3 separate regions of the Homo sapiens genome follow, and all the other regions are linked to region 1. Evidence: fine-mapped expression QTL. A gene starts in region 1. Each other region holds a variant in brackets. All regions are shown on one strand. Distances are between the middles of the regions.

Region 1 (10,550 bases):
TTTCCTTACAGGTTTCAACCCTCTGGGCACAGAGTCAAATATTCCCCTCTTAGGAAGGGTATACAAGGCCGGGTGCAGTGGCTTATGCCTATAATCCCAGCACTTTGGGAGGCCGAGGAGGGCAGATCATGAGGTCAGGAGTTTGAGACCAGCCTGGCCAACATGGTGAAACTCTGTCTCTACTAAAAATACAAAAATCAGCCGGGCATGGTGGCGCACGCCTGTAATTCCAGCTACTCAGGAGGCTGAGCCAGGAGAATTTCTTGAACCCAGGAGGCAGAGGCTGCAGTGAGCCGAGATCATACCACTGCAGTTCAGCCTGGGCAACAGAGCAAGACTCCATCTCAAAAAAAGAAAAAGAAAAGCAGAGCAAGATATTTTGAGCCCAGGTCTAACTCACAACCGATGTTCATATTTCTCATGCTGTATACTTTCCTCTAAGTACATCTTTGGCTGCATCCCATGTATTTTCTAACCACAATAATAAAGAAAGCATAACAGGATAAAATAAGGAGACTTTCTGCCAGTTTTCTTTCCCCCACTTTTCTAGTTGTCATGGCCTTTCACCCACTGGCTATTACAGTGAATTTTTTATTCCGAAAACCTCTGCCAATCAAGAGCCAAAGACTGGAGGGCTTAAAGCATAGTTTGTTTCATAAACCAGTTTGGGGAATAATTCATAATGATGTAAGAGCTTAGACACTGAGAAGGGGCTGAGTCATGGGGTGCAGCATGTTCTGGGAAAACAGATTTAGGACAGAAACAAAATTTCTCCTTTTAAGAATGGAGATACGATTGACATTCGCTGGTTTTTGGCTTTTCAGCATGTGGTAGAGTCTCTATTTGAATGTAAAAGACCCTTTCTAACTCTGGCAGCTTGTGGGGTTTGGAGAGGGGGTGGGAAATTTCCTTGGTTCTCTTTGTTTATTTATTTTATTAATTTTTTTGAGACAGAGTCTCGCTCTGTTGCCCAGGCTGGAGTGCGGTGGCACAATCTCGGCTCACTGCAACCTCCACCTCCTGGGTTCAAGCGATTCTCGTGCCTCAGCCTCCTGAGTAGCTGAGACTACAGTCTCGCGCCACCATGCCAGGCTAATTTTTTGTATTTTTAGTAGTGACGGGGTTTCACCACATTGGTCAGGTTTGTCTCGAACTCCTTACCTCAGGTGATCTGCCCACCTCAGCTTCCCAAAGTGTTGGGATTACAGGCGTGAGCCACCGCGCCTAGCACTGTGTTCTCTTTCTGGGTGCTTGTGTGAAGGCTTGTGACTCAGGCGCGGCCAGATGGATGCACCTGTCCAAGCACCCGAGTCTAGAGGAGGCAACTCAAAGGTGTGGAGAGGAGCCCAGAAAGATTAGGAATTTATCCCAAAGAAACTGAAGTAGATGTGAGTTTCCTTGAGTGTGATCTCAATCTTAAAAAAAAAAAAAAATCCTCTAAGCCAGGTGCAGTGGCACTCACCTGTAGTCCCAGCTACTTGGGAGGCAGAGGCAGGACAATCATCTGACCCAGGAATTCAAGGCTGCAGTGAGCTACTGTACTCCAGCCTGGGCACCATAGCAAGACACCATCGCTAAAAAAATTATCTAAGATAAGTATTATTATCTTCATTTTACAGATGAGAAAACAGACATGGAGAAACCCGAGCACCCAAACCAGAGCCACAGTCTCTGTGGGCAGCAGAGCTAGAAACTGAACTTGGGCCACAGGACTTCAAACCCATGTTCCACACTCTTAACAATTACCAAGTTTTTGTTGTTGTTGTTTTTTGTTTTTTTTTTTAGACAGGGGCTTGCTCTGTTGCCCAGGCTAAAGTACAGTGGCACAATCATAGCTCACTACAGCCTCGACCTCCCAGGATCAAATGATTCTCCATCTCAGCCTCCTGAGGAGCTGGGACCACAGGCATGTGCCACCACACCTGGCTAATTTTTGTAATTTTTTTTTTTTAATTTTGTGAGACACAGGGTCCCTCTATATTGTCCAGGCTCGTCTCAAACTCCTGTTCTCAAGCGATTCACCTGCCCTGGCTTCCCAAAGTGCTAGGATTACAGGTGTGAGCCACCACGCCCAGCCTGCAGAGTATTCAGATTGTCATTTATATCTGAACGTGTTTTGATTTTGCCTTTCAGTGCTGTAAGAGGGATTTTTTTTATTTTCTAGATGATTCAAAAATTTTTAGCCAATCTTTTGTTATTTAGTTTTAGTTTTATTACATTGTGCTCAGAAAATGTGACTGAATTTTTTCTACTTTCAGGAATTTATTACAGCTTAGTTTAAGACCTAACATTTGGTCAATTTTTGTATTTATTCCATACAAATTTGAAAATAATGTTATCGGGCCGGGAGTGTTGGCTCACGCCTGTAAACCCAGCATTTTGGGAGGCCGAGGCGGGTGGATCACCTGAGATCGGGAGTTTGAGACCAGCCTGGCCAACATGGAGAAATCCCGTTTCTACTAAAAACACAAAAATTAGCTGGATGTGGTGGCACATGCCTGTAATCCCAGCTACTGGGGTCAAGGGGAGGGCACTGAGGCAGCAGAATTGCTTGAACCTGGGAGGTGGAGGTTGCAGTGAGCCAAGATCAAGACACTGTACTCCAGCCTGGGCAACAGAGGGAGACTGCATCTCAAAAAGAAAAAAGAAAATAATGTTATCAAGTATGAATGGTATTAATACAAATTAAAAGGCAGATATTGTCAGACAGGATTTAAAAAAAAGACCTAACTGCATCTTGTCAACTATAAGATGTCTATTTTAAATATAAAGAAACGGTTAAAAGTTAAAAGATGGAGTAGTGGTGGCTGGGCGGGGTGGCTCACGCCTCTAATCCCAACACTTTGGGAGGCCAACGTGGGTAGATCACTTGAGTTCAAGGCCAGCCTGGCCAATATGGTGAAACCCCGTCTCTACTAAAAATACAAAAAATTAGCTGGGCATGGCGGCACATGCCTGTAATCCCAGCTACTTGGGAGGCTGAGGCAGGAGAATTGCTTGAACCCAGGAGGTGGAGGTTGCAGTGATCCGAGATCGCACCACTGCACCCCAGCCTATGAGACAGAGCGAGACTGTCTCAAAACACACACACACACACACACACACACACACACAAAGACAATACATTGGGTCAATCACTCTTCTTTGTGTCTGACCTTTGTGGCCATTTGTCTCTTGTGTCTGATGCCTGGACAGCGACTCCCTCTCCAACTAGCCCACGGCCCTTGGTCGGGGTTGACTTTGGCACTGCCCTAACACCCTCCATTCAGCACCCTGTTCCTTCATGTGCCTGCTGCTAAGGTTATGAATTTCTAAGTTAGGAAATGCATCCACTCTCAGCCCCTCTCACCTCCAGTCCTCAGACCTCAAGGTGTCAGTGAAACATGGTGGTCCCAGATGGGCTTCCCTCTGCGTGCAGTGAGCAGCCCGCTGAGCCTCACTGTCTCCACCCACGGCCTTAAAGTTTTTGTTATGTGAAATACAGCCTTCTAGAGATTCTAGGGGCAACATGGAATTCTTCCTACTGTGTTTATTTGATTATTTCAATAGGCATTTGTTGACAAAATGGGAGAGGGAATTGAATAGAGGGGGTTAGATCCCCACCTAGCACCAGGAGTCCCTTTTGTTTGTTTATAGAGATGGGAGGGGGGGTCTCACTATATTGCCTCAGGCTGGTCTTGAACTCCTGGGCTCAAGAATCCTCCCACCTCCGCCTCCTGAAGTGCTGGGATTACAGGCGTGAGCCACCGCACCCAGCCCCAGGAGTCCCTTTTGAATCAGGGTTGGGCACCAATTTGACCCATACTGAATACTTTAGGTGACTGTAACACAATGGTAAAAATTTGCATATATAAACAGATGTAAACATAGAAACATAGTAAAAATATGGTATCATAATCTCTTGGGACTACCACAGTATATGTGGTCTGGCATTGACTGAAATGTCATTACTCATGACGGTACTAAAATACAGTAGGTGTATTTGCCTGACATGGGGAAAGGAATAGAGAGCACAGTGCCCAGCCATCGCCCTGCGGGACATTCGTAAGCCGTTGGTATTACAAATTCTAGCCTTATCATCAGTGGGTCAGCTCACTTCAGTGCCCATTCATTGAAAAGCCTTAAAATTCGCTTCCTTCATTTGGGGTGTACTGAGCCCCTTCCCCAGAAAGGAGCGCTTGCGGGAAGTCTGGCACAGGTGACTAGGGCTGTGCGGTCAAGTAAGTGCACTTCTCCCACGGGGCAGGGGCCATGGGTGGGACCACATCTCCCCAGTACCTGGTGTGTGCTGCTCCCAGGGTCAGGGCACCTGGCAGTTGGAAAGACCGGCCGACCCCGAGGGATGGGCAGCACTGGAATGGTGGCTCCAGGGCCAGCACTCCCGGAGGAGGGACCGCCTGAGGAAAGGCAGGGAGGTGGGAAATCCCAGAACATGTTTGGGGAATGACAAGACATCTAGTTTGACTGGAGTATGGGGAAAAGGTGGGGCGTTGGGGAGACAGGTCTGGGGCCAGACTGCAGGGGTGGGAATTGGCTTGGTCTGGGAGGCAATGAGGGGCGAGTGGACGGGTCAGAGGCGGCGGCGCTTCCACCCCGACTGGCATTAGAGGGCGTGTCCTAGGAGAGGAGCATCCCCCTCCCCGGACCAGCCGCCCTCCGGAGCCCAGAGTCACCGGAGATGGGGGCACACCCCGGGGCTGCGTGTGTCGTGTCAGGCCGCGGCAGGGAGAGGCCGTCCCCTGGTGGCGCCGGCCGGAACGCCCCTCGTGCCGCGACCGCGCGCCCCTCTGTCCTCGCCGCGCGTCGGCGCAGAGCAGCCACCCGGGGCCCAGCAGGCGCGGGCTTCCCCACGCGCCCCGGGAAGGGACAGCTCGGTGTGGGGTCCGGGAGGCTTGAGCCCCGCGGCCGCATCCGGGGAGCCCTCGGCAGTCGCGGAGCTGCTTCCCAGGGGTGAGCTCTCCGGGAGGCCCACGGGGTGGCCCCGGGCGCCTCCGCCCTCAGCTGTCGCTCCTTATAAGGCGGGGGCCGGGCGGCGCCGGAGGAGGGGCCGCGGCATCAGCCCGGTCCTGGGCTCTGGGGCGGCGCTGGGCCGGGCGAGCGCAGTGCAGCGCAGCCGCGGGGAGCGAGGAGCGCGCGGAGCCGGCCATGGGCAAGTCAGGTGAGCCCGCGGGCTCGCCCGCTGCGGAATGGTTCGGAACCCCGCGCTCCCGGACCTCGCCGTCTCCCTCGTCCGCCGCAAGCCAGGTCCTGGGGAGTGCGGGAGCCCGGGGTGCGGGTGGAGGGCGCGCGGGCGGAGCGCCCCGGCGCGGTTTCCGGGGAACCCGGGGGGAAGGCGAGCCCGAGGGAGGCCCCCGCCGGAGAGCCGGGGATCGCGCCAAGTTGGGCTTCCCGACCCTGAGGGGCTGCGCGCCGCGGCCCGCCAAGGCGTGGCTTCTGCTTTGTTTCAGGAGGCCAGACTTAGAGTTGGAAAAGTCACCAAAGTGTGACAACAGCTCTCGCTGCGAAGCAGTTTGCCCCGCTCGGCTGTCCCGAGGACAGCCCTGAGCATCCCCCTCATCCATTTGTTGTTCCTTCTCTCCTGAGCGCCCGCGCCGTGCCGGGCTCCCCCTGTGCTAGGCTCGGTCTGGCTCCCTTTCTCCTGGGGCACCCCATCCTCTCTACTGTGGCTGTCGGGATGAACTTTCTGCAGCGCAGCTCTCCTCCTGTCGCTCCCTAACACCTTCCTCACCATTGTCCTCAGAGTGAAAGGACACACTCCAGTCCTGCCTTCGGGCCCCTGGGAGTGGGTCCCTAGCCCTTACCTCCGCCCTACACTAGAGCTGTCCAGAAGCTGGTGCACAGGTCCCTTCCCCTAGGTTTCCTTGCCGGGCCTTCACCACCCCAACTCTCAGCCTGAAAATCCCATCCCTCTAGGCTCAGCTCCTGGGCTGGAGCCCATCTGTGATTCCCCCCGGGAGGGAGCGCCCAACCTGGTGTTTTCCTCGCTGCAGCCCTTCCTGTAGTGGGCCGGGGACAAGAGTTCAGCCATAGACCTGTTTCCCACCGGGTCCTCACCCCTGGCTGCCAGGGGCCGTGTTTATCTCAGCATTGCTTCTGCCTCACAGGAGGCTCTTAGAGAACAGCTGTTGAACAGGATTCAGAAGTCCTGCTTCATCCGGATTGTCCACTTCAGATGAGTAAGGCTAGGTCCCTTCTAGGATCTGTCCTCCAAGATCTGGACTCAGGAGATGCCAGCGCTGGGCGCAAGTGGCTTTCCCTGGCCTTGGTCCTAACCAGCCTTCCTAGGCTGTAGAGGCAGGTCTGGCTTTCAGCCCTGGCCCAGCCAATCACTGGCTGTGTGATACTGAGCAAGCCTCCTTCCCTCTGTTCCTCCCTGTCTGTACAATGAGGGTGGCCGTATGAGCCCTGGGGTTCTTCACAGTATGGAAAGGTGATATAATGGGTTGCCATTTAGTTAACAGGATGACAGATGGTGATGGAGCAAAAGTATGGCAGATGAGAGCGAGTCTTTCGAGATATCTGCTTGGGAAATCAACTCCTTTCTCTGTAGAAATTTGTGGAGAAAATCCACAAATTCCCTTAGGCTACTTTTTTTTTTTCTTTCTTTCTGAGACGTGGTCTCCTTCTGTTGCCCAGGCTGGAGTGCAGTGGTGCGATCTCGGCTCACTGCAACCTCCGCCTCCCAGGTTCAAGTCATTCTCCTGCCTCAGCCTCCTGAGTAGCTGGGATTACAGGTGTGCGCCACCACGCCCAGCTAACTTTTGTATTTTTAGTAGAGACAGGGTTTCACCGTGTTGGTCAGGCTGGTCTTGAACTCCTGACCTCATGATCTGCCTGCCTCAGCCTCCCAAAGTGCTAGGATTACAGGTGCGCCCAGCCTAGGCTACACCTTAATCAGTTGTTTCTGGCATCTTATGTAAGGCACGGTTTTCCAGAACTGCTCATATTCAGCTGTGTGCCCATTCTTCTGTCTGTTCGCCCCTTCCTCCTTCCCTCCCTTGCACTGTCTAGCAGCTCTGTATCAAGCTGTGGACCCAGTGCCGGGGCGTGCATCCACTTGGATTGTGAAAGGAATACATAAAGCTATGTAGGGGATAGACAGGCACTATCTGGCTCGAGTAAGAGGTGGAAAATGATCCAAACCACAAGACAGGTGCTGGTGAAGGGTGGTGGGAGCTCAAGGTGAGGAGACTGCTCCGCGTGGGAGCCGACGAGGGTTCCTGGAGGAGATGGTCAAATCCCAGAGGGTCTTGGGAATTTAGACTTCATCTTATGGAACCTGGGGTGCCATGGAAAGGCACTGATCTGAAAGCAGCGTAACTAGAGCGTTGCCAGGGTGTAGGGTAGATCGGATGGATGGAGAGAAGGTGGAGGGAGGATAGGGGAGACTGCCGCAGTCACAAACAGGAGATGACAGAGGCATCCAGGGCAGGGTGGAGGCTGGAGAGGAGGATGGGATGGATTTGTGAGATGGTGGCCTTGGGCAGACTTGGTGACAACTTATTGTGAAGCAGAGGGAAGGGTCAGAGGCCTGCACGATGGGATGATGGCTTCCATGCCTGGAGATGCAGGGTTGGGCAGGTTTCAGAGGAAGATTACTTCTCACTCAGGAGAGGAGGGGGCCAGTGGCAGAAAGCAGGTTAGAACTGGTTGAGTCAGAGGCCACCTCCACCCCTAACACACACACACACACCCAGGGACCTTGCAGAATTCTGACCCAGGCCTTTCTCCCTCATAGTCACGTGCATTTAATTTAACTCCCCCACCCCAACCGGAAAACCGAGAGCCCCCAGAATAGTATTAATATCTGGCTCTCCTAGGGTCCCTAAAAGAAAATGACTTTTCTGGGTGACCCCGTGCCCAGTGGTCCTTCAACTCAAGCTCAACCTTGAAGTTCCAGGCCGTCAGCCCAGGGCTGCTGTCTGTGTCTATAGGGCAGGTGGCACTCACAGGGGCTCTGTGTGCTTCTGTAAAGACCATCATAAGGAATCTGTCCCTGCCCCTTCTGGGCCTCAGTTTCCTCCTCACTGCACAGGAGCCAGTCTCTTTTTCATCTTTAACCTCAGATACACCCCAGAGCTGCTTGGCATAACAGGCGTTATTGTAAAATCATCACACAGCTGGCACAGTTGAAATTCCAGAAGACGCTTGGCCTAGTGATCGAAGACTCCCAGATCCTGCTCCCAGCTGTGGTTTCTCTGCTGGGACTTGGTGTGCAGCAAGTGTGGTGGGGAAGAGAAAGGCAATGACCTTGGGCTCAGTGGAAGCCTCCTGTCCCTAATACTGGTGACACCAATGATTAATCTTCAACTGCATGCCAGGCAAAGAGCTCAGTATTTTCTATGTTACCATATTAGTGACAGCACTGCCAGGCAGTTATTATCAACTCATTCTATAGATTTACAGAGGTTGAGTACCTTGCCCAAGCTCACACACTGACAGGTAAGCAAGCCAGTGAATTTGAACTCAGCTCTCTGACTCCCCTACTGTGTCCTGTCCTCTCTCCCACACTGACCACTTGCCCTGACACCCTGCTCCCTGCCAGCCTGAACTCTAGGCCACTGGGGACTTCCACACACCCTCTCATCAGCTCTAAGAATATTAGTGTCCCTCCATCCACCTAGCACCAGAGGAAATCAGAGCAGAGAGGCCTTTAGGGACCAACGAGCCCAGGAGTTTTCTACTGAGTGGGACCCTCAGGCCTCTGCAGGGAGAAGCTGTGTGGGCCAGGCCAACCCCAGCAGTTTCATTTTCATCTGTTGCTTTTATTGAAGGTTTCCTTCAAAGGAAGGGTTTCCCTGCTTTGAAGATATTATGAAAACCACAGATGTCATCCTTCCTTCACACACAGATGGGAAACCTGGGGCCCAGAGGGGTAGGGATGTGCCTGAGTGACAGTAGGCAGGCAGGGCTGGAAAATGGCTGCCTCCCCTTCAATTACAACCACTGTCTATGGAGAGGGACAGCCTAGGGGAGGCTGATGCTTGGGGGAAGGGGGTGCCTTGTTCCCGTAAGCAATTGAGCAACTCGTCATAGACATCATTCTTGCCATTTGGAAAAGAGGAAGCAATTCGTAAAGTGGAAAGTGTGGGAGATTTGGAGCAGGGGAGGGGGTAAAGGGAGGGGCATTCTTACACCCGGCTCTAATGTGGGCTCTGTGTGGTCTTGGACAATGCGCATGCCCCCCACCATCCAAACACCCCAGTTTCCTCATCTGTAATGAAGAGAGGAATCCTGTCCCGCCTTCGCTGTGCTGGAGTGAGAACCTCATTCATTTGTTCACTCACTCATTCACTTAGCAAATATCCAAGCTCAGAGGGACTGAAAAAGGCCATCAAACGTCAATGTAAAGGCAGGGCAGGAGGGGACCTGACCCGGAAGGAGCAGGAACAGGTTCTTCTAAAGCCAAAGCCCAAAAGGTTTCTGTCCCTGTCCGATGGTAATAATAATCATTACAGTTGGCATTTAATACCTGTTCATTATATTCCAGAACAGTTCGAAAGCATTTACATAGATTAATTCATTTAACTCTCACTGCAGCCTTGTGAGGTAGATACTGCTGTTCTCATTTTATGTATGGGGAAAGGAGGCACAGAGTGTTGAAGCAACGTGTCCAAGATCGCATGGCCAGTAAAAGGCAGTGCGGGGATTTGGCTGTTGAAATTCCCGGATCCGGCTTAAAGAGCAGGAGTTACCCAGCTGAAATTCATTCTTTTTTTTTTTTTCCTTAAACTGCCAACTTTTTATTCTTTCTTCCTGATAAACAAGCAAAACCAGCTTTGCCCCGAAGGCAGAACCGGGCTGCTTTCCAGCCTTTTGCCAAGGGGGCAGGGGGCCTGTTCACAATTCCTGCCCTGGGCCCTGACAGTCACTGGCTCTTTCATGAGGAGCCTGGAGAGGGCAGAGTGAGTCAGGCTGGGCTCAGGGAGGCCTCAGGAGAGGAGGAAGATGCTGAGGGAAGAGCCTGTCTCAGCCAAAAGTTTAAATGGTAGAGGAGGGGCATAGACCTCCTCAGAATCTTTTTTTTCTTTTTCTTTTGAGTCAAGGTCTTGCTCTGTCACGCAGGCTGGAGTGCAGTGGTGCGATCATGGCTCACTGCAGCCTCGATCTCCTGGGCTCAAGCGATCCTCCCATCTCAGTCTCCCGAGTAGCTGGGACCACAGGCGTGGGTCACCACGCATGGCTAATTTTTTTTTTTTTTGTCCTCCTCAGAATCTCTACAGAGCCTCCAGCGGTAGAGGCCTGGCCTCCAGAAGGAACTTCGAGAACCCAGTGCAGCCCCACCTAGGACACCTATACCCTCCACCCCAGCAGAGACAGCCCAGCCCCTTCCCTCAGCCCTGGGGAGCCAGGCCCAGGGCTTTTAGCAGCTCTGACCTTTATTTTAAGTCCCAAGTCTGGCCCCCTGGTAACCTGCACTCTGCAGTCCCTGATATCCCCCTGGGGTCCCTCAGCCAGGTATGCTGGAAAAGCGCTTGGCACAGAGGAGGCTCTTGAGAAGCCTTCGTTCTTCTCTTCTCTTCCTTCCTCTCCTTTGTTCACTTCAGAGA
Region 2 (10,550 bases), 29 kb after region 1:
ACAGGCATGCACCACCATGCCCGGCTAATTTTGTATTTTTAGTAGAGATGGGGTTTCTCCATGTTGGTCAGGCTGGTCTCCAACTCCCAACCTAAGATGATCCGCCCACCTCGGCCTCTCGAAGTGCTGGCATTGCAGGCGTGAGTCACGGCGCCCGGCCTTACAAATACTTTTTGAAAAATGATTCGGCAGTGGCGGCATGTGCCTGTGGTCCCAGCTACTCAGGAAGCTGAGGTGGGAGGGTCTCCTGAGCCCTGGAGGTGGAAGCTGAAGTAAGCTATGATCATGCCACTGAACTCCATCCAGCCTAGGTGACAGAGATCCTGTCAGAAAGAAGGGAAGAGAAGAGAAAAAGAGAAGAGGAAGGGAAGGAGGGAGAGAAGAAAAAAGAGAAGAAGAAAGAAGGAAAACAGAAGAAAAAAAATGTGCAAGGGTTCTGAGGTGGGACATACTCTGGTGTGTTCAAGGAATGGAGAGGAGGCCACTGCACCAAAGGATTCACTTTCATTCTAAGTGCATTGGGGAGCGAGTGAAGGATTGTTAAGCAGGGAAGTAAATAGATATGATTTATATCTCAGAATGGTCACTCTGAATACTAAGTAGAAAATGAGGCTCACGCCTGTAATCTCAGCAGTTTGGGAGGCCGAGGTGGGCAGAGCACCTGAGGTCAGGAGTTCAACACCAGCCTGGACAACATGGTGAAACCTTGTCTCTACTAAAAATACAAAAAAATAGCTGGGCATGGTGGCACACACCTGTAGTCCCAGCTACTTGGGAGGCTGAGGTGGGAGGATCACTTAAACCAAGGAGGTGGAGGTTGCAGTGAGCTGAGATCATGACACTGCACTCCAGCCTGGGTGACAGGGTGAGACTCGTCTCAAAAAAAAAAGAAAAGAAAAAGAAAATGATTTTGAGGGGCCAAGGTGGATGCCATAGAACCAGTCAGGAGGCTATTGCAATGGTCCATGTGAGAAAAGTTTGCAATTGGGACCAAGGGTTTGGGAGTGGGTGGACCTGAGATGCATTTTAGAGTTGGATTCTTCAAGACTGAATACTAGGTTGTTGTGGGGAAAAGGAAGAAGAGGAGGGATGCAGACTCCCCCTGGCAGTGTGCACATGGAGGTACCATTGATGGAGATGGGAGGACTGGGAGAGGAATAAATCTAGGGGGACAAAAACTGGGAGTGAGGTTTGGAAAGGTTAAATCTGAGATGCCTGTGAGTCATCCATGTGGAAATGTCCAGTAATTAGTTATGTCTGGAACACAGAGCAGTGATTTGAGCTGGAGAAATAAATTTGGGAGCCAGGGAAAGATGAAATTCCCTAAAGAGAGCTTAGAGGAAAAAAAAAAAAGGGCCCAGGATTGAGCCCTGGGAAGTGTGGGTCCTTCAATATCTATAAGTGAGGGCGAGGAGGCGGAAGAGGAGGCAGTGAGACAGGAGGAATGGCAAGAGACTGTGGCATCCTAGAAACCAAAAGGGGGAGGGGTGCCTTGAAAAGGAGAAGAGTAGGAAGTGTTCCTCAGGTGTCAAGTAAGATGAAGACAAAAGGGGATCACTGGAGAGCTTCAAGATTACAGCTTGGGGACAGGGTTAGACACAGGCAGTAGGCAGTAGAGTGGCATCCTAATTGTTGGGGCCACTGGGCTTTGTCGTGATCTCTGGGAGACTGTTGGAAGGTGGTGAGGTGGGTAAGGTCTGTGTGGCTGATAGAAAGGACCTGCTTTAGAATTCAGGCAGTCTGGCCAGGCACAGTGGCTCACACCTGTAATCCCAGCACTGGGAGACTGAGGCAGGTGGATCGCCTGAGGTCAGGAGTTCGAGACCATGGTGAAACCTCATCTCTACTAAAAATACAAAAAAATTAGCTGGGCGTGGTGGCATGCACCTGTAGTCCCAGCTACTTGGGAGGCTGAGGCAGGAGAATCACTCGAACCCAGGAGGTGGAGGTTGCAGTGAGCCAAGATCATGCCACTGCACTCCAGCCTGGGTTACAGAGCGAGACTCCATCTTGGGGGAAAAAAAAAGAAGTCAGGCAGTCAGAGTGTTTTCTCTCTCCTTCCCCTGCAGGGGGTCTGTGAAGACCATGCTGACCTGAGCCTGGCAAGATGGTACAGGGGTTCAACAATCCCCTGCCACATCCTTCTTCAGGCTCTGCTAATTCAGCCGTGTCCCTCTCCCTCTGCCCGTTCCCCTACAGGACACTTCACGGCCATGGTATGGAAGAACACCAAGAAGATGGGCGTGGGGAAGGCGTCCGCAAGTGACGGGTCCTCCTTTGTGGTGGCCAGATACTTCCCAGCGGGGAATGTTGTCAATGAGGGCTTCTTCGAAGAAAACGTCCTGCCGCCGAAGAAGTAACTTGTTAAATGTAATGGGAAGGTGGCAGACTTAAGAACGTGGATATGAAGTGCCTAGAACCACCACAACCTGGCTGTGCGTCTGTCCCTGTGGGTGTATGTGCTTGTGTGTGTGATGCATGTGAGCGTCTCTGGCACACACACTTGGACATACAGTTCTGTGTGCGCTCATTCTTATTACAGGAGTGAGCAAAGGAAGCATTTACCCCGATGGTTACCTAGACCACGATTATTTGGATTGGGGGGAGGGGGGATCCGTTTTTTTTTTTTAATTTTTTGTTATTTCTAAGCAAACCTCTTTTGTACTTTTCTTACTTCTAATATCCATCCCTGGACTTTTTGTATTCCAAATGTTTGTGATGCTGAGAAGTGAAGTTCATTTTATGTGATCTTCATGCGTCGTAATCTACTTTTGGTAGATAATTAAGATTATTAAACCCTCATTTAAATGTGACATAAAATACAGCTTTAAGCACATAAATACAAAGCAGCTTCCATCAGGAACATGGAGCAGGCAGGGACTCCATTTTACAGAATTACTGAGATTTCTCAGTTGTAAAACATGATGTCATCCTGCATGCCTCCTGGAATTCTCCAATGGGGTCGCCAAACAACAAATGGAGAAAAAAAGTTTTACTTCCTTGCATTCTTCTACCTTTAAATAGCAAAGTACCACTACCACCACCACCTCTTGCCCCCTTCCCTCTTTTCTTAAACTTCTGGCATTTCAGAGCTCAGCAGGCTACCCCTGGTTTCTGGAGAGTTGGGCTAGGCCTGAAGCTCCCCCTCCCCCACCTCTGCTAGGCAGCCCAGGCCTGGTCTGGGAGACAGCCCCTCACCCTGCCTGGGCTCTTGGCCAAGCGGCCTTGGATGGATGAAGTCAGAGAGGTGGGGTGAGGGTGAGCTTACTCAGGGCCCCCAGAGGAAGCCCTCAGCCTCTGCCCTCCCCCCACACAGGGCGGGAGCCCAGGCCTGTTCCTGGCAGCTGTGGCTGCAGCTGTGCTCCTGCTCCCTCCTGGAATGTGCGACAAGCCCAAATGTTCCGGGGAGGCGGCCGGGGCAGGGGGCTTAGAAGTGCTAATATGGTTCTGTGTTTTGCCTGAAACGATACCAGGTTCCCCTGAATAGCAACTTTACAAGGTCCATGTGGGAGGGACCAACCCAGATGCCCTGCTGAGTGTCCCTGAAACCATGGCAGCTCCATCTGTCAAGATGGCAGGGGCCGGAGTGAGGGGGCTGCTGGCTTAACAGCAGGCATCTGGGCAGGCCAGTCCTCAAAGCAGCTCCTGAAGGTCTGTGTTGCACTGTCACCAGTCTCAAGCTATGCCTCTAATTTCACCAGGGATATTGACTAAGAAGACAATAAAATCTTTTTCTTTGTGTAATAACCTCCTCCAATGTGATTCATACTTCATTCTCCATGGCTGAGACAATCCGTGACTCTGAATCCCTCTCTCGATTAACCCCAGAATACCTGCAACCCATTCCCCGTGGACTGTGTTGCTTAAGTGGCCAAGTTTTAAGCCATCTGACCCACCAGCACAGAGCTGATTGGACTAGAGTGGACACTGGATCCAACGGCAGCCAATCACCAGGCTGGCCATGGACTGGGAATTTCAGCTAAGAATTATGGAGAGAATTTACCAGTGGAACTGAAAAAAATAAGGATGCCATAAATTGGAATTAGGGCCATGGCAAACCAAAGCTACTTGCAAGCCAAGTTATGAATAGGAAATACACAGAAGCGAAGAAGCCAGTTATTGGAGGTACAAAAGAGGAGGAGATGCTGAGAATATTCTTGAATGTTCCTGAGTTTTCTAGCTCCAGCCCAAATCTGTATATCTTTAAAATATGCCCCTCATTTTCCTCAGGGCTTCCAAACAAACTGATATACCAGCCGATAGTCCCCAAAGATTAGAATCATACCATCTCTTCCTAACGGGAGACACCATGAACAGAAAATGTGGCGCCTGGTAGGAAGCTGACGGTGGGTGAAAAGACCCTGCTGAGATCCTTTTCTGGCCCCACCTGGCAAGCTGCCAGCCAATGAACTTCTTGGTGGCTCCTCGGGTCACCCCCCCCACCCCCATACACACACACACACACACACACACAACCAGGTGGTGGAAGCCAGCATGCAGCCAGCCTCTATGGGCTGGAGTTTGTTTCCACAGTTGGCTGGATTGAGGAAAAAGCTGGACCGGGGAGCTTTCCTGGGCTAAAGAAATGCCAGACAGCAAAGCTGGCTGAGCAGGTGGGCACTAATCTCACTTTTAAGGATTTCTTGAAGATGGCAAGCCTCACAATCCAAAAAGAACAAGGACAAACCAAACCGCGGCTCTCCTTTGTAGCCAGAGGGCAGAGGAAGAAGACAGCTCTCTGGTGCAAGCCTCTTCCTCTCCCTGGGCTTCAATTTATCCACCTGTACGAGGTCTGTCACATGGAGTTAGGTCTATCAGTTCTCTCAGGTCCCCATGACACCTCCAGACCCAACTTAATGCTGGAAGTGTCTGATGAGAGAGCTCATTCCTGCCTTGGTGCTCTGGGAGCTGAAACAAAAACAAACAGGCATGGCCACCTCCTCCACTGAAATGCTCCCAAGGCTGAAGCTTGCAGGTGGGAGGGCAGGGGAGAGGACAAAGGAGGTGTGAAGCAGCAGGGCCTGACCCACCCACCCCCTGCTCCCGGGTGAAGATGTCCCAGGAGGCGAGATCTGCCAGCCTGCATGTCCATGGGAGCCAGAAGGTGTCTGGCATCAGCACCAAGAGGCCTCATCATTCACCCAAGTTGCTGCTGCTGCTTTGCAGAAGGTAAGGGCTGAAGAGGCATTAAGGGCTTAATTATTCTCCCAGGGAGACTGGT[C/T]TCCGGAGGAGGAGGCTGAAATTGAAGTCTACTTCCAATGGGGAAAACAGAAGTTCTTCACTTTGTGCACGTATCATATCCCAAGAGACCGAGTCTCTCTATCGCATTCGGGCGGGAAGGTGGACAAATTCAGTTTAAAAGGGTATTTTTGGCCAGGTGCGGTGGCTAACGCCTGTAATCCCATACATTAGGAGGCCAAGGTGGGTGGATCACGAGGTCAGGAGTTCAAGACCAGCCTGGCCAAGACGGTGAAACCCCGTCTCTACTAAAAATACAAAAGTTAGCCGGGCGTGGCTGCGCGCGCCTGTAATCCCAGCTACTTGGGAGGCTGAGGCAAGAAATTACTTGAACCCGGGAGGCGGAGGTTGCAGTGAGCCGAGATCGGGCCACTGCACTCCAGCCTGGGGGACAGAGTGAGACTCCATCTCAGAAAAAAAAAAAAAAAAAAGGGAAGGGGCGTATTTTCAAATAATTTTCAAGTTACCAAATCTAAAAATAAGGAAAAGACTAGTCTGGAATGAACGGACGAGGGAGGGAGACAATGAGAATGAGAATATGACTAAGCCAGGGAGGGAAAGAGCTGGAACGGCTCAGATTCCCGAGGCTGATACTGAAATTTCCCGGGAGGGGCACTGAGGACGGCCCGAGGGTCTAGAGTGGGGCTTGGGCCCAGATTGGAGGAGATCAGAGAGGTAAGTCCTTTCTGTACCTTCTCGCGAATGCCTGGGCGAGATGCAAGTCCAGGCCCTTCTCTGGGGTCTCTTCCCAAAGGCTGGTCCGGGTGGGGCTACTGGGCTCTTTTGCCTCCCCCTCCCTCCCGCCCGCGGCGCTCCAGCTGGCGCTTATCCCCTTCTTGCACGAACAGCAGTTCCACAGACGCCCCACAGGACTCCGGGAGCCCCACGCCAGCCAGGAATCTGTCCGAGTCTGCGGGCACCCTCCTCTCTCCCCGCAAAGGACTCGCAGGGGTCAGGAAACCCCCCCAGCTGTTACTGGGAGTCGGAGACAGTCTTCTGGCCTCTGGAGGGCGCGCCTCCGTTGGGGGCTCAGCGTCCCCATCTGTAAAGTGGGGACAGGTGTGTGTCTGGGGAAATCTAAGGAGTCCTGCAAGGCTGAGAGCCCCCGATCCTGCCGTTTGAATTCCAGGGTCGCGGCGGACGGCACGGCGCTGCCGCCTTTGCACGGTGGCGCGTGGAGGCAAAGCGAAAAAGGGGACGCCCCGCGCCTCTTTTCCATCCTGGAGAGGGGTTGGGGTGGTGCCCGGCGCAGAGGCGGTGCGCTCGGGGGCGGGGACGACCCTCCAGCGCCACCGCGTGGCTGGACTGGGTTCGGGCGGCGGGCCCAGAAGAGACGCGAGGTAGCCACAGCCTCCTCAGCTACCGCGAAACCAGAACCACGATGACCACAAGTTTTTATGAAGGGAGCAGCCACGAACGCCGGCGCTGGGCGAACTGGTGTAATATGAGTAAGAAAACGGCAGCTAGCATTGATTGAGCTTTATGACAAGCCCACTACTCTCCAGTCCTTTTCTCATTTAAACTCTAATAATAGGCCGGGCACGGTGGTTCACGCCTATAATCCCAACCCTTTGAGAGGCCGAGGCGGGCGGATCACCTGAGGTCAGGGGTTCGAGACCAGCTTGGCCAACATGGTGAAACCTCGTCTCTACTAAAAATACAAAACTTTGCCGGGCATGTTGACAGGCGCCTGTAATCCCAGCTACTGGGGGTGGGGGGTGAGGGGGGTTGGGGGGTTGGGTAATAAAAGACAGGGGAATTGCAACAGAGAAAGAGTAATTCACACAGAGCCAGCCGTGCGGGAGACTGGAGGGTTTTGTTTTTGTTTTTTGGGGTTTTTTTTTTTGAGACGGAGTCTCACTCTGTCGCCCAGGCTGGAGTGCAATGGTGCGATCTGGGCACGCTGCAACCTCCGCCTCCCGGGTTCGAGCGATTCTGCTGCCTCAGTCTCCCCAGTAGCTGGGATTACAGGCATTACAGGCATGCACCACCACTCCCAACTAATTTTTGTATTTTTAGTAGAGACAGGGTTTTGCCATGTTGGCCAGGCTGGTCTCGAAACCATGACCTCAGGTGATCCGCCCACCTTGGCATCCCAAAGTGCTAGGATTACAAGCATGAGGCACCGCGCCCGGCCTGGAGTTTTATTATTACTCAAATCAGTCTCCCGGAGCATTGGGGGAGCAGAGTTTTTAAAGATAACTTGGTGGGTAGGGGGAAGCCAGTGAGCCAGGAGTGCTGCTGATTGGTCAGAGATGAAATCATGGGAGTTGGAGCTGTCTTCTTGGGCTGAGTCAGTTCTTGGGTCTGGGGGCCACAAGATCAGATGAGCCAGTTTATTGATCTGAGTGGTGCCAGCTGATCCATCAAGTGCAGGTTCTGCAAAATATCTCAAGCACCGGCCGGGCACGGGGGCTCACGCCTGTAATCCCAGCACTTTGGAAGGCTGAGGCAGGTGGATCACCTGAGGTCGGGAGTTTGAGACCAGCCTGACCAACATAGAGAAACCCCATCTCTACTAAAAATACAGAATTAGCCGGGTGTGGTGGTGCATGCCTGTAATCCCAGCTACTCAGGAGGCTGAGGCAGGAGAAACGCTTGAACCCGGGAGTTGGAGGTTGTGGTGAGCCGAGAACGCACCATTGCACTCCGGCCTGGGCAAGAAGAGCGAAACTGTCTAAAAAAAAAAAAAAAGAGAAATCTCAAGCACTGGTCTTAGGAGCAGTTTAGGGAGGGTTAGAATCTTGTAGCCTCCAGCTACATGACTCCTAAACCATAATTTCTAATCTTGTGGCTAATGTTAGTCCTACAAAGGCAATCTAGTCCCCAGGCAAGAAGGAGGTCTGCTTTGGGAAAGGGCTGTCTTTGTTTAAACCGTAAACTATACATATAGGTTTCTCCCAAAGTTAGTTCAGCCTTTGCCAAGGAATGAGCAAGGACAGCTTGGAGGTTAGAAGCAAGATGGAGTCAGTTAAGTTGATCTCTTTCACTGTCTCAGTCATAATTTTGCAAAGGCTGTTTCAAGCTGAGATCGCACCACTGCACTCCAACCTGGGTGACAGAGCGAGACTCTGTCTCAAAAAAATAAAAATAAAAATAAAAATAAACTCATAATAATCTTTGAAGTGGGTACTACTATCAAATATTAGTTCCATCTCACAGAGGAGGAAACTGAGGTTTAGAAAGTCTGATCAACTCGCCCAAGTCCACCTTTGATGGAGAAAGCTGACCCACTGAAGCCCCCAACATTTTCCAACTGGACACTTGGAAATGTTGGGGGAACATTCTAGTTTGCCAAGGAGCTGAAATCATCCGGTCTTTAAAGACCCTCCCATGCCCCCGTTTGTGGTTAACTCCTTCATCCCTGCTCCAGGGAGTGGCCTCCACCTCTCCATTTTGAAGGAGAATGATGTCTGTGGCCACCAAGGTCAGAAGCCAAAGGACAGAGCTTTTCTCTGATGCCCAGGAGCCTTGGCAGGAAGAGTGCTTGGAGAGTTGAGAGTCAGAGACTGGGGAAAGCTGGGTAGTCAGGAGCTTCCAGAAGGGTAGGAAGAATGCGAGGTTCCCCAGGTTCTGGGCCCTGCTCGGCTTCCAACTGGCTATGTGATTTTGGGCAAGTGCCTTCTCTTCTCTGGGCCTCAGTTTCCCTCAAAATGGGAGGATTCTTCTAGGTCTAATAATCTCTTCCCTTTCCCCACCTCCCCTTATCTCTCCTACACAAACTGCTCCCCACTGCCCCACCCAGACTGGCTCTGATATTCCAGAAGCCTTTAACTACGGTTTGAAAGTCCCAGGTGGAAGTTGCCGCCCATCCCTGAGGTTCCTCCTGAGCTCTGGGCCCAGGGCTTTAGGTCCTGCTAGGGTATGTGGCCTTGGCAGGTTGGAGAGATCAGAGGGGAGGAAGGCCCAGTGCCTCTGAGACAGGCCTCAGGGAGGCCTGCATTGTGATGACCTGATCCACTCTATGACATCATCCTCTCTTCCACCCTCTCTTCTCCCTGGTCAACCGCTCTGCAAACAACCATCAATCTGATCCCACAGGCCTGAGAAAGTCTGCTCTCCAGTACCTGCTGCTGATCTGTTTCAGCCGACAAGAGGCACCATGAAATTGGAATTCACGGAGAAAAACTACAATAGCTTCGTGCTGCAGAACCTGAACAGACAGAGGAAACGCAAAGAGTACTGGGACATGGCCCTGAGTGTGGACAACCACGTCTTCTTTGCACATCGCAATGTGCTGGCTGCTGTCTCCCCACTGGTGAGGAGCCTCATCTCCAGCAATGACATGAAGACCGCTGATGAGCTTTTCATCACCATTGACACCAGTTACCTGAGCCCGGTCACAGTGGACCAGCTTCTGGACTACTTCTATAGCGGCAAGGTGGTGATCTCCGAGCAAAATGTGGAGGAGCTGCTTCGTGGGGCTCAGTATTTCAACACACCACGCCTTCGAGTTCACTGTAACGACTTCCTTATTAAGTCCATCTGCCGTGCCAACTGCTTGCGCTACCTCTTCTTGGCTGAGCTGTTTGAGCTCAAAGAGGTATCAGACGTAGCTTACTCTGGCATTCGGGACAACTTCCACTACTGGGCCAGTCCTGAGGGCTCCATGCACTTCATGCGCTGTCCACCTGTTATCTTTGGCCGCCTGCTCCGTGATGAAAACCTTCACGTGCTCAATGAAGACCAGGCGCTCAGCGCACTCATCAATTGGGTGTACTTCCGGAAGGAGGATCGGGAGAAGTATTTCAAGAAGTTCTTCAATTACATCAATCTCAATGCTGTCTCCAATAAGACGCTGGTGTTTGCCAGCAACAAGCTGGTGGGCATGGAGAACACCTCATCCCATACAACCCTGATTGAGAGTGTCCTGATGGACCGCAAGCAGGAGCGGCCATGCAGCCTGCTGGTCTACCAGCGGAAAGGGGCCCTGCTTGATTCCGTGGTCATCCTCGGTGGCCAGAAGGCCCACGGCCAGTTCAATGATGGAGTGTTTGCTTATATCATCCAGGAGAACCTGTGGATGAAGCTCTCAGACATGCCCTATCGGGCAGCAGCACTTAGTGCCACCTCTGCTGGTCGCTACATCTACATCTCTGGTGGCACCACTGAGCAGATTTCAGGGCTGAAGACAGCCTGGCGGTATGACATGGATGACAACTCCTGGACCAAGTTGCCTGACCTGCCCATCGGGCTTGTCTTCCACACCATGGTGACCTGTGGGGGGACAGTGTACTCAGTGGGCGGGAGCATTGCCCCAAGGCGGTATGTCTCCAACATCTATCGCTATGATGAGCGGAAGGAAGTCTGGT
Region 3 (10,550 bases), 150 kb after region 1:
TCAGCCTCCCGAGTAGCTGGGATTACAGGTGTGTGCCACCACGCCCAGCTAGTTTTTGTATTTTTTAGTAGAGACAGGGTTTTGCCATGTTGGCCAGGCTGGTCTTGAACTGTTGACCTCAGGTGATCCACCCGCCTTGGCCTCCCAGAGTGCTGGGATTACAGGCATGAGCCACCACTCCTGGCCCTTATATTTTTCAAATATGTTAAAGGTATACATAACCCTCAACAACATTTTTTGTTAAATCTCTGCTCTTTGCTCTTTCTTCCCATCTGTTTCCTCACATCCAGTCTGCTCTTTTTTCTCTCTTAACTAAAAACTCTGTTAAAAAAAAAAAAAAAAGTTGTCTTCTCCGCTTCCTCCGTCTTTATAGAGAGGCAGGAGAGAACACTTCTAAGTGTGCCAGGGCAGGACCTTCTTTTTTCAGGCAGATAAAGGAGTGGATCCATGGATAGTATTTTTTAGAGGTGGGGTCTTGCTGTATTGTCCAGGCTAGACCTGGACTCAAGTGATCCTCCTGCCTCAGCCTCCCAAGTAGCTGGAACTAAAAGTGTGCACCACTTGGCCAGTTTTCATGGATGATTGTTATGCTTTTTCACTTCCTCTTGGTTAATCTTGACAGACATCCCCTCCTCCCAATAAAAATATCCAGGCATGGTGGCTCACACCTATAGTCCCAGCACTTTGGAAGGCCAAGGCAGGTGGATCACTTGAGGCCAGGAATTCAAGACCAGCCTGGGCAACATATTTAGATACCCATCTCTACAAAAAGAATTTTTTTTTAATTAGCTGGTCTTGGTGGCACATGCTTATAGTCCCAGCTGCTCAGGAGGCTGAACTGGGAGGACTGCTTTGAGTCCAGGAGTTTGAGGCTGCAATGAACTGTGATCTTGCCACTGCTCTGCAGCCTGGGCCACACGGCAAGACACTGTCTCAAGAAATAAATAAACAAAAATATCCAGTATTTAATATACTGTCCATAGACTGCCTATAGGACCTCACTTGAGAGCTTACAAATCAGCAATGGGAGAGAAAAAGCTGTCCAATAGAAAAAATTGGCAGAATAGCACTAGGGAACTCAAAAAAATATATGATCAAAAGTCTGACCTTACTACCATTTTTTAAAATTGTTTTTTGTTTTTATTTATTTATTTTTGTTTATTTTTTTGAGACAGAGTATCACTCTGTCACCCAGGCTGGAGTAGAGTGGCACGATCTCAGCTCACTGCAACCCCCGCCTCCCAGGTTCAAGTGATTCTCCAGCCTCAGCCTCCCAAGTAGCTGGGATCACAGGCATGCACCACCACCCCAGCTAATTTTCGTATTTTTAGTAGAGACAGGGTTTCGCCATGTTGGCCAGGCTGGTCTCGAACTCCTGACCTCAGGTGATCCTCCCACTTCAGCCTCCCAAAGTGCTGGGATTACAGGCATGAGCCACCTTGCTCAGCCTGTTTTTTGTTTTTTTAAGACAGAGTCTTGCTCTGTCGCCCAGGCTGGAGCGCAATGGCACGATCTCGGCTCAGCAACCTCCACCTCCCGGTTTCAAGTAATTCTCGTGCTTCAGCCTCCTGAGTAACCGGGATTAAAGGAGCCCACCATCACGCCTGGTTAATTTTTGTATTTTTTGTAGAGATGAGGTTTTGCCATGTTGCTCAGGCTCCTGGGCTCAAGCAATCTGCCCTCCTTGGCCTCCCAAAGGGCTGAGATTACAGGCATGAGCCACTGTGCCCAGCCTGCTCAGTGAAATATTATCCTCTTTTTAATAAATAAGATGTTCTTCATTGTGCTTTATGGGAGCACATATAATTAAAATTTTGTATTGTAAATTCAATATTAGGGCTGATTTTTTTTTTTTTAAACGGAGGTCTTACTCTGTCGCCCAGGCTGGAGGGCAGTGACGCGTTATCTTGGTTCATCGCAACCTCCACCTCCTGGGTTCAAGTGATTCTCCTGCCTCAGCCTCCTGAGTAGCTGGGACTACAGGCACATGCCACCGTGCCCAGCTAATTTTTGTATTTTTAGTAGAGATGGAGTTTCACCATGTTGGCCAGGCTGGTCTTAAACTCCTGACCTCAAGTGATGCGCCTGCCTCAACCTCCCAAAGTGCTGGGATTAGAGGCGTGAGCCACCATGCCCAGAGACATTTTTATTTTTATTTAATTAATTAGCTTATTTTAAAATACAAAGATGAAGTCTCACTGTGTTGCCCAGGTTGGTCTCAAACTCCTGGGCTCAAGTGATCCTCCTGCCCTGACCTCCCAAAGAGCTGGGATTACAGGCGTGAGCTGCCATGCCCAGCCTGAGCTGTTATTTTTATTCTGTCCATTTGATAATCTATTTGAAAGCTATACTCCTTGTGATCCAATCCCTACATTGAGTTGAAGTTAAATAAACACTGGTCTTGCTCTGAGTCTTAAAGAACCATGTTGATGTTTACTGTAGATGTTTACTTTAATTGGGCTGCACAGGAGTTTTATTCAGAGCATCATCCAGAAAGCTTCTAAACATCTTCACACAGTTCTCCTTGTCCCTGTAGTTTCCCAGGTGTTAAAAATCTCCTTTTCTGTCCCTTTGCACAGGGTTCTCACCCCATCCTGATGCTCTTCTGAATCACCTCCTCCTTCATGCTTCTCCTAAACAGAGACTCATTCTGCAGGGATTCTGGTGAATACAATTCTCCATTGAGCTACACATCCTTAGAACAAATGTTTAATGAGCACCTACTGTAGGCTCTGCCATGAATAATCTTTCACATTTGGTTAGGCTTTTTTCTGTCTACAGAATTACTTTCATGTCCATTATTTAGAATAGGGGTCATCAAATCTTTTCTATAGAGGGCCAGATATTTTTGCAGGCCATGTCTCTGTCACAACTTCTCTGCTCTGCCCTTGTGGTACAAAAGCAGCCATACACGATGTATAAAGGAATGGAGATGGCTGTGTGCCTTTGAGACTTTTTTTTACAAAAACAGATAGTGGCCTGGAATTGGCCGCTGAGCTATAGTCTGTCCACTCCTGACTTAGAACAACTCAGTGAAGTGGAAGTTACCTGTCCTATTTTATAGACCAGGAAAGGAATTGAGGCTCAGAGAAATTAAGTGGTTTGCCTAAAGTCACACAAACAAGTTACAAGTGGCTGACCCAGATCTCAAACATGGGTCAAAAAATGTGACTGCAAAGTCACTGCTATTTTAACCACACCATACCGTCTGTCACTCATTCAGATAGCTTGTGTCAAGAGTGACAAGCTTCTTAACCTACGTGCCACATGTTTGAGGAAGAGTTAGGTAAATTTTGATGCATCCACAAATCGCTATGCAGTTAGTCAACATGATATTTACAATGTGAAATCATGGAGAAATATGAAATGATGTGAATCAAAAGGCTAAGCACAAGATCGCATATAGAGTTGTGCTTGTGTAAAGGAAAAAAATACATAAAGGACTTAAGGGAAGTATCTTAGAATATTAACAGTTGTTGCCTCCTTGTAGATGCGAGACTGATTTTTCTGTGTGCTTATTTCTACTTTTTGTATTTTGCACTTTTTTTTGTTTTGTTTTTCTGAGACGGAGTCTCGCTCTGTTGCCAGGCTGGAGTGCAGTGGCGCAGTCTTGGCTCACTGTAACCTCTGCTTCTCAGGTTCAAGTGATTCTCCTGCCTCAGCCT[C/T]CTGAGTAGCTGGGACTACAGGTGCGCACCACCATGCCCTGTTAATTTTTGTATTTTTAGTAGAGTCAGGGTTTCACCATGTTAGCCAGGATGGTCTCGATCTCCTGACCTCGTGATCCACCCACCTTGGCCTCCCAAAGAGCTGGGATTACAGGCGTGAGCCACCACAAGCCCGGCCTTGCACACTTTTTTACAGTGTACATTATTACTTTGTGAGCCAGTAAATAATAAAACTTCGAAAGTGAATGCATCTTGAGGATGCTTACAATTTATTTTTTTTTTCCAGGATAAGATGGTTGGATTGGTCACTGGCTGGAACAGGAGAAATACATTTCACTTCAGATAAAGTAGAGAATACAGTTTTTAGCCAGGCAAAACCCTGATCTGTTTAAGACTAAGTTTCACAGAATGACAGAGGAAGTTGTGAAAAGCCTTGGTCTCTGGGCAGGCCTCATTTTTAGCCATGTTGCATGGTCCACCCCTAAGTGAACTACTTTAGAGTCCCCTCTTTCCTGAGAGAGCAAAAGAGGAGAGAAGTCTCCTTTGGAGAAGCAAAGACTCCTTCTCCAACTTGCAGCTTTTTTACCCCTGTGTTCTGCAATGATGGTAATATGAACAAACGTTAAATGTGTAGATACTGCAAGTATTATCCACAAGAACATCTAAAAATCATTTGCAATCCATCTTCTTCTAGAAGAGGTTAATGCCATTTATGAGGGTTGTAACGTGGAGAATTTTCTCATCACTGGGTTTCAGGCTGCAGATGTAGGGGTCAGATGGGCTAGTAATGAGCAGAATGCCTAGGCAATACGCTGATCTAATACCTGCCTCTTGGTCTTTCCTATTTGTTGAGCACACACGAGGGCAAGGACAAGGCCTGCCTGGTTGAACCGGAAAGGTACAACAGGCTACTTTTAGATCAGACTGTTTGGCACTTACGTAAACAGCAAAAGGAAGAGTGGCTCAAGGTGCCAGCTCCTATGGTCTTTGTCCCACTCACCAAAAGGACAACACCAAAACAAGAGGGGTCAGATAACTGCAAGGCAAGCCATGGGACGCCCTTTCGAGAAGCTCATTCTTAGCTGCAGCTAAGGGCTTTAGTATTCTGCAGCTCTATTCTGAGGGGGCCACAGCATAAAGCCCTAATCTCATCAGAACCTGGAAGGCATAAGAAATCATCTCAGCCTTCCAGGGAAGTAGGAACATGAATGGGAGATGGCATACATGCCACCATCCTCTCATGTTAAGGTATCTTTAAATAGAAATACACAGAAAACAAAGTTACGTATTGGTTGGTTGACAAAAATGACCAGAGGCTTTAGGAACCTAACCCTGTATTTCCCTTAAGAGTAATAATTCAGTATTCACTTATTCAGCATTCACAGCAACTTTATAGAACATAACTACCATGAAGAAAGAGAACTGGCTATATTATTATGAATACAGGAATGTAGTTTGGCCTTCACACACAGCCCCAAAAGGGCTCCAAGACTCTCCCTCCCTCCTCCGAGGTCCCCAGACCACACTTTGATAACTATTTCTGGTAGACTATAAACTGTGGCCAACTAGGGGTCAGCCATAGCTATTTTGTTCCTCTTCACATTTCCAGAGTCTTGCATAGTGCCAGGCATATATTGTGAGTTAAGTTAAAATGGGCTGGGGGTAAGATTTTTATGAGAAAGTTAAACCTGAGAGAGGAGAGACAGAGTGGTCTCTTTGGTGCTAAAGGTCAGTTCAGCCTTGATGTTGTTGTTGTCGTTGTTGTTTTTGAGACGGAGTCTCGCTTTGTCTCCCAGGCTGGAGTGCAGTGGCGCGATCTCGGCTCACTGCAAGCTCCGCCTCCTGGGTTCACGCCATTCTCCTGCCTCAGCCTCCCGAGTAGCTGGGACTACAGGCGCTTGCCACGCCCGGCTAATTTTTTGTATTTTTAGTAGAGATGGGGTTTCACCGTGTTCATCAGGATGGTCTCGATCTCCTGATCTCGTGATCCGCCCATCTCGGCCTCCCAAAGTGCTGGGATTACAGGCATGAGCCACTGCGCCCGGCCGTTTTTTTTTTTTTTTTTTTTTTCTTAATGACAGGGCTCACTCTGTTGCCGAGGCTGGAGTGCAGTGGCACAATCTCGGCTCACTGCAACCTCTGCCTTCAGGGCTCAAGCGAACCTCCCACCTCAGCCTCCTGAGTAGCTGGGAGTACAGGCATGAGTCACCACACCCAGCTAATTTTTTGTATTTTTTTAGAGATGGGGTCTCACTATGTTGCTCAGGCTGGTCTCAAACTCCTGGGCTCAAACAGTCCACCTGCCTTGACCTCCCAAAGTGCTAGGATTACAGGCATCCACCATTGCACCCAGCACAACATATATACCTTATTTATTTATTTATTTATTTATTTATTTATTTATTTTGAGACAGAGTTTCACCGTGTCACCCAGGCTGGAGTACAGTAGCGTGATCTCAGCTCACTGCAACCTCTGTCTCATGAGTTCAAGCGATTCTCCTGCCCCAGCCTCCTGAATAGCTGGGATTACAGGCCCCCGCTACCACTCCCGGCTAATTTTTGTATTTTTAGTAGAGACGGGGTTTCTCCATGTTGGCCAGGCTGGTCTCGAACTGTTGACCTCAGGTGATCCACCCTCCTCAGCCTCCCAAAGTGCTGGGATTATAGGCGTGAGCCACCATGCCCGCTGGAATTTTAAAATACTTTATTACGGCTCCATAGCTAATGGGTTAGAGCACTGGTCTTGTAAAATACTTTATTACTGAAAAATGCTAATGATCACCTGAGCCTTCAGTGAGTCATCTTTTTGCTGCTGGAGGGTCTTGCCTCAGTGTTGTGGCTGGTGACTGATCAGGGTGGTGGCTGCTGAAGATCAGGATGCCTGTGGCAATTTCCTGAAATAAAACAATGATGAAGTTTGCTACATCGATTGACTCTTTCACCAAAGATTTCTCTGTAGCATGAGATACTATTTGATAGCATTTACCCACAGTAGAACTTCCTTCAATACTGGAATCAATCCTATCAAACCATGCCACTGCTTTATGAACTGCGTTATGTAATATTCTAAATCCTCTGTTGTCATTTCAACAATGTCCACAGCGTCTTCATCAGGAGTAGAATCCACATCAAGAAAAGATGTTCTTGGCTCATTCAGAAGAAACAACACCTCCTTCATTCAAGTTTGATTGTGAGATGGCAGCAATTCAGTCACATCTTCAGGCTCCACTTCTAACTGTACTTCTCTTGCTGTGTCTACCACATCTGCAGTTACTTCCTCCACAGAAGTCTTGAGCCCCCTAAAGTCAACTATGAGCGTTGGAATCAACTTCTCCCAAATCCTGTTAATGTGGCTATTTTGACCTTCTCCTATGAATCATGAATGTTCTTAATGGCATCTAGAATGATTAATTCTTTCCAAAGTCTTTCAATTTACTTTGCCCAGATCCATTAGAGGAATCAAGATCAATGGCAGCTATGGCCCAACAAAATGTATTTCTTTCTTTTTTTTTTTTTTTTTTTTTGAGATGGAGTCTTGCTCTGTCACCCAGGCTGGAGTACAGTAGCGCAATCTTGGCTCACTGCAACCTCCACCTCCCAGGTTCAAGCAATTCTCCTGCCTCAGCCTCCCAAGTATCTGGGACTACAGGCGTGTGCCACCCAGCCCAGCTAATTTTTGTATTTTTAGTAGAGACAGTGTTTCACCATGTTAGCCAGGATGGTCTCGATCTCTTGACCTCATGATCCGCCCGCCTCAGCCTCCCAAAGTGCTGGGATTGCAGGCGTGAGCCCCCATGCCCGGCCAATGTATTTCTTAAGTAATAGGACTTGAAAGTCAAAATTACTCTTTGATCCATGGGCTATGGACTGGATGTTGTGTTAGCAGGCATGAAAACAACATTCATCTCCTTGCACATCTTCATCAGAGCCCTTGGGTGACCAGGTGAACTGTCAGTGAGTGGTAATTTTCTGAAAGGAATCTTTTCTTCTTTTTCTGGGCAGTAAATCTCAATAGTGGGCTTAAAATATTCAGTAAACCATGCTAATTACCGGATATGCTGTCATCCAGGCTTTGCTATTCCATTTATAGAGCACAAGAAGAGTAGCTTTAGCATGTTTTTTTTTTGTTTTTTTTTTTTTTGAGACAGAGTCTCGCTGTGTTGCCTAGGCTGGAGTGCAGTGGTGTGATCCCAGCTTACGGCAACCTCTGCCTCCCGGGTGCCTCCTGGGTTCAAGTGATACTCCTGTCTCAGCCTCCTGAGTAGCTGGGATCACAGGCATGCACCACCACACCTGGCTAATTTTTGTATTTTTAGTAAAGATGGGGTTTTGCCATGTTGGCCGGGCTGGTCTCAAACTCCTGACCTCAGGTGATCCACCCCCTTCGGCCTCCCAAAATGCTGGGATTACAGGCGTGAGCCACCACGCCTGGCCAGCTTTAGCATAACTCTTAAAGGTCCTAGAATTTTCAGAATGGCAAATGAGCACTGACTTCAACTTAAAGCCACCAGCTGCATTAGCTCCTAATAAGAGAGCCAGCCTGTTCTTTAAAGTTTGAAGCCAGGCACTGACTTCTCCTCTCTAGCTATGAGGGTCCTACATGGCCTCTTCATCCAAGAGAAAGCTGTTTGTTTTATCTACATTGAAAATCTGTTGTTTAGCGCAGCCGCCTTCGTCAGTGATCTTAGCCAGATCTTCTGGATAACTTGCTGCAGCTTCTACATCAGCACTTGCTGCTTCACCTTGCACTTTTATGTTATAGAGCTGGCTTCTTTCCTTCAATCTGATGAACCAGCCTCTGTTAGCTTCCAAGTTTTCTTCTATAGATAACCTCACCTCTCTCAGCCTCCACAGAATTGAAGAGTTATGGCCTTGGTCTGGATTAGGCTTTGGCTAAAGGGAATGTTGTGGCTGGTTTGATCTTCTATCCAGACTACTCAAACTTTCCCCGTATCAGCAATAAGGATGTTTTGCTTTCTTATCATTTGTATGTTCCCTGGAGTGACACTTTCAACATCCTTCAACAGCTTTTCCCCTGCATTCACAACTTGACTAACTGGCACAAGAGGCATAGCTTTTGGCCGATCTCAGCTTTCGACATGCGTTCCTCACTAAGCTTAATCATTTGTAGCTTTTGATTTAAAGTGAGAGTCGTGCGACTCTTCCTTTCACTTGAACACTTAGAGGCTATTGTAGGATTATTAGTTGGCTTAACTTCAATGTTATTGTGTCTCAGGGAGTAGGGAGGCCCACGGAAGAGGGGAGAGAGATGGGGAAATAGCCGGTTGGTCAGTTGAGCAATCGGAACATGCACACTTATTGATTAAGTTTGCTGTCTTATATGGGTGCGATTTGTGGCACCTCAAAACAATTACAATAGTAACATCAAAGGTCACTGATCATGCCTGTAAACCTAGCACTTCGGGAGGCTGAGGTTGGAGGATCACTTGAGTCCAGGAACTCAAGACCAGCCTGGACAACATAATGAGACCCTGTCTCTACAAAAAAATTAAAAAAACTAGTGGCATGCGTCTGTAGTCCCAGCTACTCAAGGGGCTGAGGTGGGCGGATTGTTTGAGCCCAGGAGGTTGAGGCTACAGTGGTCGCACCACGGCACTCCAGCCTGGGCAACAGAGTGAGACCCTGTCTCGAAATAATAATCACAGTCATAATTATAATAATGAAAAAGTTTGAAATGCTGTAAGAATGATGAAAATGTGACACAGACGTGAAGTGAGCACATGCTGTTGGAAAAATGGCACCGATAGCCTTGCTCCAGGCAGGGTTGCCATAAACCTTCCATTTGTAAAACGTGCAGTATCTGCAAGGTGTGATAAAGCAAAGCACAATAGAATGAGTTATTCTTGGACTCACAGAGCATAACACGGGGATAAATACGCACAAATCTATACTGATTAAACATCTTGATTATTGAAGTAGATTTTACAGTATGACTTTTTTAAGATGCAAGATATGGAATCAGACCTATCCTCACATTTTCTAGTACTGGGTTAACATTTGTGTAAACTTTTAGCTACTCTAGATTAGAAAATGTAACATCATTGTTCCTTATCTTTTCTTATACAAATAAGACTAGGCCTTAGGTCTGTGGCTTTAATGAAATAATAATTTGTCATTATTTATGTCAAATTCAGCCCCTGCTTTACTTTCTTTTCTTTTCTTTTTTTTTTTTTTTTTTCTGAGACAGAGTCTCACTCTGTTGCCCAGGTTGGAGTGCAGTAGCTCAATCTTGGATCACTGCAACCTCCACCTCCTGGGTTCAAGCAATTCTCCTGCCTCAGCCTCCTCAGCAGCTGGGACTACAGGGGCACACCACCATGCCCGGCTAATTTTTGTGTTTTTAGTAGAGATGGGGTTTCACCATGTTGGCCAGGCTGATCTCAAACTCCTGACCTCAAGTGATCAACCCACCTCGGCCCCCCAAAGTGCTGGGATTACAGACATGAGCCACCACGCCCAGACCCTTGCTTTACTTTCATTTGGCATATGGTTTTTTCCACAGTGATGACCAACAAATGAAACTGTGCACCTTTGAAAGAGACTCTGCAGTTACATTTCAGCTCTAATATCCCACACACAGGTATCCTTGCATCCTGTGAGGGGGAGGAGGTGCAGGCACTAAGCAGATTCCTGGAAATCAATGGCCAGAGGCGATGTTTTCAGAGAGGTGAGACGATGGAAAATTACTGAGCAGACAGTGAACTTCTGAAGGGCAGAAACTTCTAGGGGCCCCCAGCACTTCAAGTGCCCAACTCCTAGCAGATGCACAATAAATGCTTGTGACTTGAGAGATAGTGGCAGCAGGTGGGCCCAGGGCTGAGGTGAGGGATGAAGGCCTCCTAGATCTGAGAGAGAGAATAAAGA

Evidence for each region. PIP is the estimated chance that this variant, and not a neighbour inherited with it, causes the effect.
Region 2: its variant is fine-mapped to the expression of GLIPR2 in left ventricle (GTEx, PIP above 0.99).
Region 3: its variant is fine-mapped to the expression of GLIPR2 in nasal epithelium (TOPMed, PIP 0.92).

Annotation. Positions count from the first base shown.
Region 1 is chr9:36,131,634-36,142,183 of GRCh38, forward strand. It overlaps GLIPR2 (GLI pathogenesis related 2), which reads left to right and starts at 5,100. Exons shown (of 5, transcript NM_022343.4): 1 at 5,100-5,158. The coding sequence starts at 5,146. RefSeq lists silencers at 4,752-5,321, 5,352-5,401.
Region 2 is chr9:36,160,163-36,170,712 of GRCh38, forward strand. It overlaps GLIPR2 (GLI pathogenesis related 2), which reads left to right. Exons shown (of 5, transcript NM_022343.4): 5 at 2,200-3,744. The coding sequence ends at 2,360. CCIN (calicin) reads left to right here and starts at 9,226. Exons shown (of 1, transcript NM_005893.3): 1 at 9,226-10,550. The coding sequence starts at 9,341. RefSeq lists enhancers at 1,589-2,169, 2,170-2,750, 6,132-6,241, 6,332-6,832 and a silencer at 6,432-6,641. The variant C/T (reference allele first, on the strand shown) is at 5,222.
Region 3 is chr9:36,277,941-36,288,490 of GRCh38, forward strand. LOC124902150 (a long non-coding RNA gene) reads left to right here. Exons shown (of 3, transcript XR_007061473.1): 3 at 6,768-7,199. It overlaps LOC102724322 (a long non-coding RNA gene), which reads left to right and starts at 10,074. Exons shown (of 5, transcript XR_001746660.2): 1 at 10,074-10,353. The variant C/T (reference allele first, on the strand shown) is at 3,666.